Linked DNA regions of Homo sapiens. The protein of the gene in region 1 interacts with the protein of each later gene in a pairwise test. Each region holds a gene or a part of one and is shown on either strand. Other genes may lie near its edges. The genes, in order: TRIB2 and SLAMF7.

Evidence for each region.
Region 2: the proteins of TRIB2 (region 1) and SLAMF7 interact in a two-hybrid assay, tested with the Homo sapiens proteins (one large-scale study listed by BioGRID and IntAct).

Annotation. Positions count from the first base shown.
Region 1 is NC_000002.12:12,715,719-12,720,001, reverse strand, and holds the start of TRIB2 (tribbles homolog 2), read right to left. Parts: upstream 3,067-4,283; 5' UTR 1,695-3,066; coding exon 1,425-1,694; intron 1-1,424.
Region 2 is NC_000001.11:160,749,066-160,752,414, forward strand, and holds part of SLAMF7 (SLAM family member 7 isoform a precursor), read left to right. Parts: intron 1-755; coding exon 756-1,028; coding exon of another isoform or gene 1,029-1,067; intron 1,068-1,238; coding exon 1,239-1,358; intron 1,359-2,279; coding exon 2,280-2,383; intron 2,384-3,120; coding exon 3,121-3,183; intron 3,184-3,349. UniProt on the Homo sapiens protein: Self-ligand receptor of the signaling lymphocytic activation molecule (SLAM) family.

The DNA.
Region 1 (4,283 bases):
GTTCTGTGGAATTCATTCATTTCAAAGGATGACTATCCTATTGTGCAACCTTGCAGACTTCTGAGAATTCAATCCAGCTACTGAATTTTGGTTAACTGGGCACAGTTGCTCTGGGTCTCAATAACTTAGAGAAGATGCAAAATACCAAATGCTCAGTACAAGCAAAGGGCAACATTTAAAGAGTCTCCGATTTCCCCCTAAGGGCTGAACTGAACAATCGCAAAACTGACTGGAGATCTCCACTAAACCCAAATTTTGCAATGAAATACTCCAGTCCACTAGGAAATAAGGCAAGTCCGCAAAGTAGTCTGTGGTGAATGGCAAAAGCGCGATGTGTTATTTGCAGCACAACCGTGCCCAGTGACCATTTCAAAGGCAGAATGGGTCCCCCACTCTCCCCTTACCCCCTCAAAAAAAAAAAAAAACAGTCAGCAAATCTAAAATTAAGTGACAAAGAATCCTTGATCTAGGTCCAATTCTGGGTAGTAGTATGCTCTATTATAGTTATTTTCTTTTTCGCAACTATTTCGCCCCTCATCCACTTGTCTGGGGCCCGGTGGGTGCACACAAAGATACACAGACACACATATACATAAACCAGTCACTGTTCAGGGTTAAAGACAAAAAAGGAAACCGAAGTGTCCATCGCAGTGGTATTACCACTGCGGATCCCTAGGGCTCCAAACGGGAGCCTCTTAACCTTACAGGCAAAGGTGTTGTTCAGGGGGGCACGGAAGAGAGGGGATGAGCAGACAGGGAAGTCTAGAGATGGGGAGAGAGACCAAGACCAGAGAGAAAGACCCAAAGCATTCACTATTCACCAGAAAGTGCTCAGGCTTTGATTTCCACCCCAACCCTCCTTTCAAGGCTCCAGGCAGAAGAAAGGTCTTTGTAAACTCCTTCCCTGCGCTGGGCCCCTGGGCTCAGCCGAAGGGGGCACCTTTGTGTGTCTGTTTTAAAGGGCACCTTCGGAACAAAGGTTTAACACCTGCCCGCTGCTAAGAACAATGGCTGCGAAAAGAACGAAGTCATCAGTCTTAAAATTACCGGGGGATTCCCTAATCCTTGTTGGAAGGGGAGGGGGCTAGACACAGGAAGAAATCCCCCCCGGGCAGCGGGACCCGGCCTCGCGCAGAGAGCTCCTGGAGCCTTCGGTGCACGCGTGTCCGTGGCCCCCGCGCAGTCCCGCCGCCCTCTCCTCCCCGGGCTCTCCCCGAAACGCCCCCACTGCCGCCCGCCCCATTGTCTGAAACGGTCTAAAAACTTCGCAACTTACCGAACCTGAGCAAATAAATAAATAAACCCATTTAATAAGGCCACGGTAATTATCCCGCGAATCTCCCTCTCCCAGACTCGAGGGCCTGGCGCCCTCCCGCTCCCTCGGGCCCCTTCCAAAGACAAAAAGCAACCCACTGGCCCTTTACCTTGCACACCAGCTCCTCTCCGCTGTGCAGATGCACGGCACGAAAAACGTGGTCTCCCTCCAGAGGTTCCAACAATAAGTATTTCCCGATACAAGAAACGCAATGCGACAAGTTCGGAGTCTCGGGCGGGCTCGGGGAGCCGAGGTTCGGGCTGAAACTCTGGCTGGGCTCCGCGGACCTTATAGACGACAACTCTTCGAAATCCTGGGTTTTGTTCCGCGATCTCCCATATCTCGCTATTGTGATGGGGGTAGACCTGTGTATGTTCATGAGTGTGAGGATCGCACACGACAAACAAAAAAAAACCCGCTGGAGAGATGAGTCGCTGGCGAGTGCGGCTGCAGGCGCCTCGGTGCCACTGATTTTAAAAGGGAGCGAGAGGGGAGGGGACAGAAGAGGGGCTGCGTGGAGAAAGAGTTAGAAGCCCCCAAATGGGCGCCGCCGGATACCTCGTCTGCTCCGAGCCCGGCTCCCGGGGGTCCTCGGTCGGCAGGCAACTCGGGTCTTTTTGTTACCCCAAAGCAGTCGGCGATGTGCAGAATCGCCGCACTTTTAGTTACTCTGTGTGTGTGTCCCCGGCGTGGATCTGGATGAGTACCCGGGCTGCTAAGGTGCGGAGCTGCAGCGCCAGGGCTCCCGACGCGACCCCCAGGCCGGCTTCCGAATCGCAGACGGGGCGGAGGAGCCCGCGGTAGTTTGTGCAGTCTTCGGGGAGCTCACGGCGGCGACTCAGTCCCAACGCGTTAGAAGCCAAACAAAAAGAGAAAGGAAACAAGCACGGGTCTACCGGCTGGCGACGCACGGCAGCCAGAATCCGCGCTGCACCCCCTTTTTTTGGTGGAAAGGGTGGGGGGCGTGTAAGGGGGGGGTGCGGGAGAGGGCAGTTACCTACGTTTTAACTGTAGATGGCGTCTGAGGCTTTTCCAAGATCGCGAGCTCTCCAAAAATTAAACAAACAAACAAAAAAAAGAAAAATTGCAAGGGAGCATTTAACTTGGTGCGGTCAGCGCTGCCAACAAAAGATTGCAAAAGCTGGGCACAGAGTTGCGGCGCGGGCTGGGCGCAGGTACCGCGACAAAGCCCTGGGCTCGGCCCGCCGCGCGGAGGTCAGCACAGGCTCATGCTGTCGCCGCTCGCTCGCGCCCCAGGTCTTCCTCCGAATGCAGCCAGACGTGCAGGAGAGAACGAGGACAGATCGGCGGTCTCCGATTTCGCCGGCACGAGCTTGCGGGGGTCCTGCGGGCGCTGCAAGGGGAGCTGCGTCCCTGGCCCTTCCAACGCGCGGCGTTCCTTTGCCCCTTTCCCGCTGGAGAACTGGATCTCGTCCTGGAATAATTTGCAATCACCCCGTCTCCCCCTACCCCGAGACCAAATTGCCCGGTGGGGTTTGTTTTGGAGAAAATTGACGGCTTGTCTCCTCCTTCTTTGATTTCTTGCTTGCCCCCCCCAGAGAAAAGAGGGGACCGTGTATTTAAAAATTAAAGGGGACGGCCGACGGTGCCCGAGGCCAATCCCCGCGCTCAGCACGCCCGCATCCCCCGGCGAGGCGGTATTAATAGTTACTTACGTGGCCGGGGATCTCGGAGCGAGCGGGGCCGTGAGTGCGCGTGTGCGCGCGCGCGCCTCGCTCGCGCTCGGTCTCCCCATTCAATGTCACCGACACATTTCCACGGAGCCTCCGCCCCCCCCCCGCCGCCCCCGCGACTGGCTCAGCCCAGAGCCGGCCCCGCCCCGCCCCCGCCCGGGCCCCCCTCATTGCGCCGGGCGCCCATCAATCAGCCCCGCCGCTGCCAGTCCTCGGGCGGCTCCCCGCGCCGCTGCCATTGCAGCTCCGTGCCGGGGGCGCCAGCACCGGCCTCGCAGCTCCCTCGCCCGGCCGGGGAGGTAAACAAAGTGAAATATCCTTCCGCGGCCCGGGGCCCCGGGCGCAGCACCCTGGGTGTCGGCTGCGAGCCGGCTGCGAGCCCAGCTGCGGGCGGCTGGGCCGGGGTTACCAGCAGCGACTCCCGAGCCGTTCCCCACACGCTGCTCCCGCAGCGCCCGCTCCAGCTCTTCGTAGCTCGTTCATGTTCCTGGCGCTTTTCCCCAGAAAGCCAGGCACGCTCTGAGCATTGGGCCCCCAGGCTCAGATGTGGCCCTGAATGAGGAGCTCTGTTTTGGAAGAATGCGCTTTCATCGGTATTGCTGCCTGGAGTTTCGAGAATTCGTTTCATGGTATCTCTCCGACATCCTCCTCTCCATTTAAAAGGAAATCCATTGCTTCCTTTTAGTTGGTGTCACCGCTTGCCCCCGATCCCCACATCCTGGGCTTGTATTTCTAGTGTTTTCAGCAGAAGAGGAACTGAAGGCATCTTTTGATTCAGGTCAAATTTAATCACTAATTCTTCCCTTCCCAGTGCATTGCCTGGAGGGCCTTGGAGGCCAAGCTAGACAAAACTTTGCACCCACACCTCCAGGGAGCGCTGTTGGGTCCTATCCAGGGTGCTGGGCGTCCTGAGTCCTCTTCTGTTAGCCAGGTGAAGGCTGCAGTTTCACGCCCCACTCCACCCCCCATTTCGCCACCCCCCCCGAATTATTCGTAACTTCCTTGGGAGATTCCAGTCCGCGGGCTTGGACAGGAACACCGGAAGCAAGGGGCTTGAACTCAGGCAGAGGCTTCAAACGCCAGCCTTGATCTAAGATATCCTGGTGAATGAGAAGCGATCTAGTAGAGGACAAACTTAAAAAAAAAAATCCCAAGGAACTGAGAAAGGGGAGTTGGGACGACTCCTGGAGCCCTCTGAGCTTTTGCATGCGTGTAGTATATTTTCCACTGGAGGAGGGGACTAAATTATTGTCCACTGTAGGACACTTTCAGTA
Region 2 (3,349 bases), on another chromosome or scaffold:
AGAAGAATAGCTGCTTCACTCACTGAGCCACAGTATCAGGAACCTTAGGGGATGGGCCTCCAGACTTGCTTGTAGGAGGTAGGCACTGCACCTGATCCAGGTGTGTCTTCCATATAGACATGGTTGAAGGGAACAGAAGATATGTATTCTGCAGGCTAACTAGTCAGGGGAGGAAGAAAAAGGGCAAAACACATTTTAACTGCAACCTTTAACGTCTCAAACCCATGAGTAGAGAAAGGTAAATGATGAATGTCAGACTCTTACCATCTCACCAATGAACCAACTACTCATTCTCTGAGGCAGGGGAGTGAGCACAGAGTAGAGAAGGGGGCCAGAAGGGCTACTCCAACACAATTTTCTCCTAGAGAGTAAAGTGAACTCTCATAGAGAGTAAAGGGAAGCCTGAGGACAGAGACTAGGGAACCTCTAGAACAGATAATATTAGCGGACATCTAACATGCGTTATCACAGTGCTTGCCATGTGGCTATGCTTAGTAAATGACAGTTATATTCTTATTGCATTATTATTTCTATTATTTCTATTGTTGTTATTGTTATTATTATTATATAGCTATGGTAAAGCAGACCTAGGTAGTTCTCTTTTCCAGATACGAATGAGGATTCTGCTCTGAATTACTGCTTTCTCTCCAGTCTGGAGCTCCCAGGGAGATTCAGGTCCAAGGTATCCAAGGATAATTCAGAGAATGGAGAGCTATAGGCAGAGTTTCCACCTCTGGTTTTCCTTCCTCTCACAGAGCACCTGTCAAAGCCTAAAGTCACCATGGGTCTGCAGAGCAATAAGAATGGCACCTGTGTGACCAATCTGACATGCTGCATGGAACATGGGGAAGAGGATGTGATTTATACCTGGAAGGCCCTGGGGCAAGCAGCCAATGAGTCCCATAATGGGTCCATCCTCCCCATCTCCTGGAGATGGGGAGAAAGTGATATGACCTTCATCTGCGTTGCCAGGAACCCTGTCAGCAGAAACTTCTCAAGCCCCATCCTTGCCAGGAAGCTCTGTGAAGGTGACTGCCTCTCCCCTCTCCACAGGAGACTCTGCCCAGGTCCTACACCTTCTTCAGCTCCTAGCCCCCATGGGAACAGACACTGTATGGAAACTGGAGGCCGCTGGGTGGTCACCAGGCTGGGAGGAAGGTGGCAGGTGCTCCAAGACCTGGGTCGTTTTCCTGAGCTGACTTTTCTCCCTTCCCTGTGCCTCCACCCATTCTCTGAAGGTGCTGCTGATGACCCAGATTCCTCCATGGTCCTCCTGTGTCTCCTGTTGGTGCCCCTCCTGCTCAGTCTCTTTGTACTGGGGCTATTTCTTTGGTTTCTGAAGAGAGAGAGACAAGAAGGTAGAGCGTGTACTATTTTTGTCCTCACCCACATTCATGTTTTTCTCCTTCACTGATTCAACAAGCACATATAGAGCTGTGTGCCAGACTTGGCATGAGGTGTTGAAGATGCAGAGATGAAGAAGCCACAGTCTCTGCCCTCAAGAAGCATACAGTCAGCCTGTGCTCCTTAGTTCTGGAGTAGAGAAAGTGCTGGAGGTCTTTCCCAAGGACACGGTTCTCCCAGTTCCCTTTCCAGGGCTCACTTCTCTCCTTCTCCCAGAGGGACATCCTGATGTGGCTCTTCTGTTGATACAGGCCCCACACTGCTGACTCTGCTCCCCTGACCTGGGAGGTGATGGCCTCCAACTCTGAGGTCCCCACAGACCAGCATCCTCTAGTCAATCCTTCCTATCCCTGTCAGAGCCCACAAACCACCCACACCCTTTCCACAGGATCAACCCAAGACCTCGCTTTACTGCCCACTAGACACATGGCTCCTGGGGAAGCCTTTCCCTGTCTCTCTCCAGTTGCACCCCATCCTGTGTTCCTAAACCCTGCTGATTGGTCTTCTGGGCTCCCACTGTCCATGTGGGTGATGGGGAGGGACCTAACATCAGTTGGGTATGACTTGCAGACTTTGAAATCTCCCTTCCCTCCTGGAAGCCCCTCTGAAAGTGTCTTTGACTTTCTCTACTTCCCACTTTGACCACCTTGATGGAGAGATCAGGAAGTGAAATGTTGGGGGTGGCCAATTCATCCTGATTTGTTTAGATTTTCCCAGTTTTAACACTGAAAGTCCTCTATCCTGAAAACCCTTCCATTACAAGGAAACTCGGCTGGTTGGTCACCCTAAGTGGGTCATCCAGGAGAAATGGTGGGCCAGTGGAAGTGGTGAGTGGTTGGAGAGGTGGCTTTGATTCTCTCCCAACTTGCTTTTAGAGTACATTGAAGAGAAGAAGAGAGTGGACATTTGTCGGGAAACTCCTAACATATGCCCCCATTCTGGAGAGAACACAGAGTACGACACAATCCCTCACACTAATGTGAGTCCCTTCTCATCTTTCCTGAGAACTGATCCTGTCTCTGAGGCTCTCCTTGTGAGGTTTTTCCATGGGTTTGGACAACATGGGAATGAAGAGGGGAGTGAGGATATATAGACTTAAAACTCAATGCACCTGTGCCTCCTCCAAGTCTTCATGGATTCTCTTCTGTGCAGAAGAAGCTGGTGGTCTCTGGAGCACCTGGTTCTGACTCACAATGCTCATGCTGTGGTCTGTGAAATCACCTGCTCCCCTCCACAGTTCATAACGGCCACACAAAAGGCCAGATTCCTTTTGCATAAGGCAGTGGGTAGAAGAGTGTGACTTTGACAGGATGTTTGAATCATGGTATCAGAAGACTTCTCTAGAGATCTCTCTCTCTCTCTCTCTCTCTCTCTCTCTCTCTCTCTCTCTCTCTATATATATATATATATATATATATATATATATATATATACACACACATATATATATAATATTTTTGAAATTCATTTTAACACAGTACAGTTTAAAAATAATGTAATGGCTTCCTGAAAAAAGTTATCAAAATTTATTATAATAGCAGTCACCAACAAGAGAACTTCCTACCTCCCTTCCCTGTTCCAGAACCCTCCTTTTCCTCTCACATCTCCTCCCATCTCTGCTTTCCCCTCTCTGGATTCTGAATGTCTCTCTGGCCTTGTCTATGTGATTCAGGAGGTGGGTGATGATTTCTTTTGTTTGTTGTTTGTTTTTAAAAGAGAACAATCCTAAAGGAAGATCCAGCAAATACGGTTTACTCCACTGTGGAAATACCGAAAAAGGTAAGAAGCTTTAGAGCTTAACTTCATCTTAATGGTTCCATTTCTTTTCCTGCTTCATGTTTAGGTCAAAATTTCTTGGACCCAGGTATCTCATACTCTCTAGAATTAAAAAGTACCCTAGTAGTTCCCCATTCCCTTTGCTTAGGGTTATACAAGAACATGGGGG